2 separate regions of the Homo sapiens genome follow, and region 1 is linked to region 2. The links come from fine-mapping of genetic effects on gene expression. A gene starts in region 2. The other region holds a variant in brackets. All regions are shown on one strand. Distances are between the middles of the regions. Region 1 has its middle 6.1 kb from the start of IER5. Region 2 holds the start of MR1 (major histocompatibility complex, class I-related).

The links. PIP is the estimated chance that this variant, and not a neighbour inherited with it, causes the effect.
Region 1: its variant is the best candidate, but not a certain one, in a credible set for the expression of MR1 in lung (TOPMed, PIP 0.58).

What each region holds. Positions count from the first base shown.
Region 1 is chr1:181,081,179-181,084,097 of GRCh38, forward strand. No RefSeq gene overlaps it. Among named protein-coding and RNA genes, the nearest start is that of IER5, 6.1 kb to the right of the region's middle. The variant G/A (reference allele first, on the strand shown) is at 1,545.
Region 2 is chr1:181,032,210-181,035,128 of GRCh38, forward strand. It overlaps MR1 (major histocompatibility complex, class I-related), which reads left to right and starts at 1,774. Exons shown (of 6, transcript NM_001385161.1): 1 at 1,774-1,865. The coding sequence starts at 1,799. RefSeq lists enhancers at 954-1,143, 1,344-1,443, 1,574-1,683.

The DNA.
Region 1 (2,919 bases), 49 kb after region 2:
TCAGGATAGTAGAAAGGTTGGAAAGATTAGCCTAGGTTCATAGAATCATAGAATTTTGGACCTAAAATGATTCTAAAACAATCAGCTAGGACACCAGTTCTCAAATGTGGATGCACGTTGTAATTACTCACGGAGCTTTTAAAAATTTCAGTGCTGGGTTTCACCCCAGAGACTGATTTAACTGATCTGGGTGAGGCCTGGGTGTCTGGAAGTTTAAAAGTTCCCCAGGTGATTCTAACGTACAGCCTTAGTTTGAGGTCTACTGATTTAGTCCAACTCCCCAGTTTTATGAGAAAAGGACCACCTTCAAATTTGCTGACACACAGCTGGTAAGAGCTGCCAGGACACCCAATGAGCCCCAGCTCTATGCACCACTCTCGGTTGTTTGTCTTTGACAATGTATTGTGTAGTACTCTGGAGACCACGCCAGAGAATTGGATTTTTGCCATAAAAGGTCATGGGAAGCCACTGAGGGTTTTTGTGCAGGAAAATGGCACATTAAAAACAAATGGTCCTGCAACTTCTAGAAAGACATCAGAATTGAAAGGAATAAATGCACCCTAACAACCCAGGGGATTGATGTTATCCATGTAAATACTCCTCTGAAATTTAAGTTTTCATGTTTATATTTTGAATTAAAAACTAATATTGTGATAATTTCTATGTCATGGCATTCAAATAAGGAGAACTGTGCTCCTCGAACTTGTGGTTGTCTGTTTAGAAAGAACTTTCTTCTGGCCAATTAGTTCTGTTGTTTACATTTTTCTTTGATTTTCTCCTTAACTCTACAACTATCTAAGTGTTTTATGTTTCATTTCTTTTAAAATTTATCTTTTCTGTCCTTTCCCTCTTCCCCAATCAAGGACATTTGTTAATTGCCCACAATATGCTCATGCATATTTATATGTCTACACCTCCCTCTCCCCTTATTGTCCCCAGGGCAGTATTGTCCAATAGAAATATAATTTGAGCCACATATGTAAAATTTTATAAACAGATTAAATTAATATTAATAATCTATTTTATTTAACCCAATATATCTAAATTATATAATTTCAACATATAGCCATTATAAAAATACAAATGAGATATTTTACATTCTCTTTTTCATCCTATGTCTTTGAAACCTGCTGTGTATTTTACGGTTACAGCACATATCAACTGAGATGCTAGATTTTCAAAATTCAAAAACATGACACAATAAGATTGGGTTTCAGGGAACACGTATTCTGCTTCAATTTTTAAATTTAAATGGATTAAAATTACATAAAACGTAAAATGCAGTTCCTCAGTTGTACTTAACACATTTCATGTGCTCACTAGCCACATGTGGCTAGTAGCCAATGTAGTGAACAGCACAGGTCTAGGGTTTTATATGGTGGTGTTTTCTCATTCTGCAGCTTGATAGGATCCTAGGCTCATTTTAATGAGTTTGATTGCTCTACCCTTATTGAAGAATCTGTTTTCCTTAGGAGTCTTAAAGGAGACAGAATCTGAAAAAGTTGATCATAAAAACAATTTAAGGTTCTCTAGTGGCCGGTGCA[G/A]TGGCTCACGCCTGTAATCCTAGCATTTTGGGAGGCTAAGGCAGGCAGATCACTTGAGGTCGGGAATTCAAGACCAGCTTGGCCAACATGGTGAAACCCTATCTCTACTAAAAATACAAAAAAATTAACCAGGTGTGGTGGCGCACGCCTGTAATCCCAGGGAGGCTAAGACACAAGAATCTCTTGAACCCAGGACGCAGAGGTTGCAGTAAGCTGAGATCCCACCACTGTACTCCAGCCTGGGTGACAGAGCAAGACTCTGTCTAAAAAACAAAAACAAAAACAAAACAAAAACCAAAAAACAGAAAAAACAAAAAACAATTTAAGGTTATCTGAACAAAGATTCAAAATTTAGTACAAGAAGGTGGGCAGGGTTGTAAGCAGTTTAGGAATGAAAATGGAGAGAAGGGAAAAAGACAGGTTTTGATGTGCATTCCTAGTCAAACACCATTTGAAAATTTAAAAATTATATAGAAAATCAAGCAGCCAGGGCCAGGCAAGGTGGCTCACGCCTGTAATCCCAGCACTTTGGGAGGCTGAGGCGGGCGGATCACAAGGTCAAGAGATCAAGACCATCCTGGCCAACATGGTGAAACCCTGTCTCTACTAAAAATACAAAAATTAGCCAGGCATGGTGGCGCACGCCTGTAGTCCCAGCTACTCGGGAGGCTGAGGCAGGAGAATTGCTTGAACCCGGGAGGTGGAGGCTGCAGTGAGCCGAGATTGTGCCACTGCACTCCAGCCTGGGCGATGGAGCAGGGCTCTGTCTCAAAAAAAAAAAATTAAAATTAAAATTAAAAAAAAGAAAAATGAAAAAGAAAATCAAGCAGCCAAGAGAAAAAAAAAAAAAGATGTACAATATCCAGAATAGTGAGAGAAAAAAGGAACAAATTAAAAAGTGGATTTGGGCCAGGTGCAGTGGCTCATACCTGTAATCCCAGCACTTTGGAAGGCCGAGGCAGGTGGATCAATTGAGGTCAGGAGTTTGAGACCAGCGTAGCAAACATGGTGAAACCCCATCTCTACTAAAAATACAAAAATTAGCCATTGTGGTGGCATGCGCCTGTTGTCCCAGCTACTTGGAAGACTGAGAGGCGGAAGTTTCAGTGAGCCATGATCACACCACTGCACTCCAGCCTGGGCAACAGAGTGAGATTCTGTCTCAAAAAAAAAAAAAAAAAAAAAAAAAGTGGATTTGTCTGTTCTCAGAAGAAAAAAAGGAGTATCACTTACATAAAGTGCTAATAATGTATTTTTATAGATCTTTTCCCCCTAAATATTTAGTATGTCATACAAATGACTATTTGATTGCATAAGCAATTTTGACACTGCCCCTCACCCCCCACCAATTGAAAATGTCCTAATATTGAAAGGT
Region 2 (2,919 bases):
TCATACCTACTTTTTAATGTCAGTACAGCAGGTTATGGTATGGAATGCATTTTGGAACAAGATATTAACAAAAATTCAAAGGAAAAAATACATGGCCATGGAATTCCAGTGCTGAGAGACATTTGGGAATATTGGGGGAGTTTTCCAAAAGAGAAATCCAGGTGACTGTATTTGTTAAATGAGTAACAAAAGGAAAAACAATGTAAAGAAACAGAAAGGAAAGGAAGAGAGAAATACAAAGATCTGAGAAGAGAAGGTGCCAGGGGCCGCTGAGAGATTGCCAAATGTTAATTTCATTATTTGGCTTCTTATTTTATTCTGGGTAAAGGTAGACCTATTAGTTTCCTGTTGCTGCTATAACAAATTACCACCAACTTAGTGGCCTCGAACAATGCAAATTTATTCTTTCAAAGTTCTGGAGGACAGAAGTCCAAAAATGTGTCCTATCAGCTGAAATCAAAGTGTTGTGTTCCTTCTGGAGGCTCTAAGGAGAATCTGTTCCTTCTCTTTTCTAGTTCTAGAGGCCATCTGCGTTCCTTGGCTCATGTCCTTCTTTCAGCAATGGCATCATCACTCTGACCTTTGCTTCCATTGTCACATCTCCTTGACTCTGACCCTTTTGCCTCCCTCTAATAAGGCCCCTCTGATTACACTGGGTCCACCAGATAATCCAGGATAGCTCTCTGTCTCAAGATCCTTAATTTAATCATATCTGCCAAGGGTTTTGTTTTGTTTTATTTTGTTTTTGCCATTTAAGGTAATATATCCACAGGTTCTGGCAATTAGGTTGTGGACATCTTTGGGGCGACAATTCTCAACCTACCATACAACCGGTACATAAGGTTCTACTACCTACTAAATGCATCATAAACAGAACTTCTGATCCTTCAACAACTCTGTGAAATATATGACAGGATTTGCTTTTAAAGTTGAAGAAATCAGGCCTTGGTGCAATTTGGGATTCTGCCCATGGTCAAATAGTGGGGAGGCAAACCCAGGTCCCTGAACCCAGCTCAAGCCTGCCTGCCTCATGGCCATGCCTCCATTCACCTCTCCCCTTCATGTCTACTTCCTCTTTCCTGTCTGGGCCTGTTCCCTAGCTCCCTGGACAAGCTTAAGCTGCTGTTTTCCAGCTTGTCATGTGCTCCTTATGACAGTGTAGCCACAGCTTGATCTTGGGGATTGCTGATTGAGCAAGCTGAGTGGCTGCCCCTCAGAATCTTCTGTAGGCCTTTCTCTTGCCTTCTTTTATTCAGTAAGTGTTTTGAGCTTATTGTGCTGGGTGCTAGAGTAGCAGGGAGGACAGACCTAAGTTGAAGATTACGGGACAATCTAAGTGACACCTGCTATCTCAGACAGAGACTTCAGCATCATAGGGAGCCAGAGCAGGGAGTTCCAAGCCGTGGGAACTGTGACTCTTTCTTACTGACCCTTAAGCAAAATTCTAAGCTCCAGGGAAGCAGAGGCAGCAGCTTGAGCTCCCTGATTGACCAGATATGATTAATCTTTGTTTCTCTGTGCTTTGAACATGACTATGCTCCATAAATATTTAAAAATTGGGAATAGGGTGAAGATAGATACACCAAAAGGAGCAAGCAGTGTCTGAAACCAGCAAAGACTTAAAAGTTACCGAAGAAGGTGTTCATGCTTTCATTTTATCTTTTTTTTTTAACCTAGCAACTGATGACACTGCATATCTTCCCCTGTTCTTATTGGGAGAAGGCCTTGTGTGTCACCAAGAGGTTCTCAGAAGGGACCTGTCAGTTTTTGGTTAAAAGAACCCGGAAAGAGAAGGACTATGGGGGAACTGATGGCGTTCCTGTTACCTCTCATCATTGTGTTAATGGTGAAGCACAGCGATTCCCGTGAGTATCCCACGTCCTCTTCTCTCCTAACTCCAAAGTCGAGGCAGCCTAGAAGGCACAGCTTTTCTTCCTAAAACTTGTGGTGAAAAATATAGAAGCCAGGGGCAGAAACGTGTATGTATTACACTCAGACTCCAGGAGCAATGGATTGCCTGAACAGTTTCCCAGTTCATATTTGTAGGATTTTGATGTCACCACCTTCTGAGGGAGGGGGAGCCGTTCTAGAAAGACTCTGGAACTTCCTCACTTTCCCTCTGAGCATGGCCTCCTTTCTTTTCTGCTCATATTTTTTCTTTTACTTTTGTTTCTCCTCTTTTCTAACTTCCAGAGTCTCATGAGGATGTAGTCAGAGTTTCAGGGGCATTAACAGTGGAGTAGATCCATTGTTCAGGTTTATTTATGTTTTTCCTCAACACAAGCCCTACCTGTAATAAAAGATCCAAGAAAGATAAAACCATGGCTCTGGGTTTGTTTACTGACTGTGAGAAGTATTAATCAAGTAGAAGGGAGAGTTTTTCATTATTCGGGGAGCTCAAGTCACTGGGGAAGCAAATGCCTTCTGTTGCCTCAAATAGGGGAAAGGGCCCATGGGCTAGAACCACCAGGCTTCTCTGCCCTAATCACTTGCTCCCTGGGCTGAGGACTGGTACTGGTGGGCAGTGTCCAGAACTTAGACTTGGCCACCACCATAGGTGTGACTGATGAACATGAGAGGAAGGAGTTCTTTCAAATCACCCATGCACATAGAGAGTGGAATGACTGACCATGGAGATTTGGAAGGGCGAGGGGGGTGGATGATTAGAAATTACTTAATGGGTACAATGTGTGTTACTTGGGTGATGGATACCTTAAAGCCCCAACTTGACCACTACACAATCTATGCTATAACAAAATTGCATGTGTACATCATAAATTTATACAAATAAAAAAATTTTAAATCATATGGCTGGGAGTGGTGGCTCACACCTGTAATCCTAGCACGTTGAGAGGCCGAGGCAGACGGATCGCTTGAGGTCAGGAGTTTGAAACCAGCTTGGCCATCATAGTGAAACCC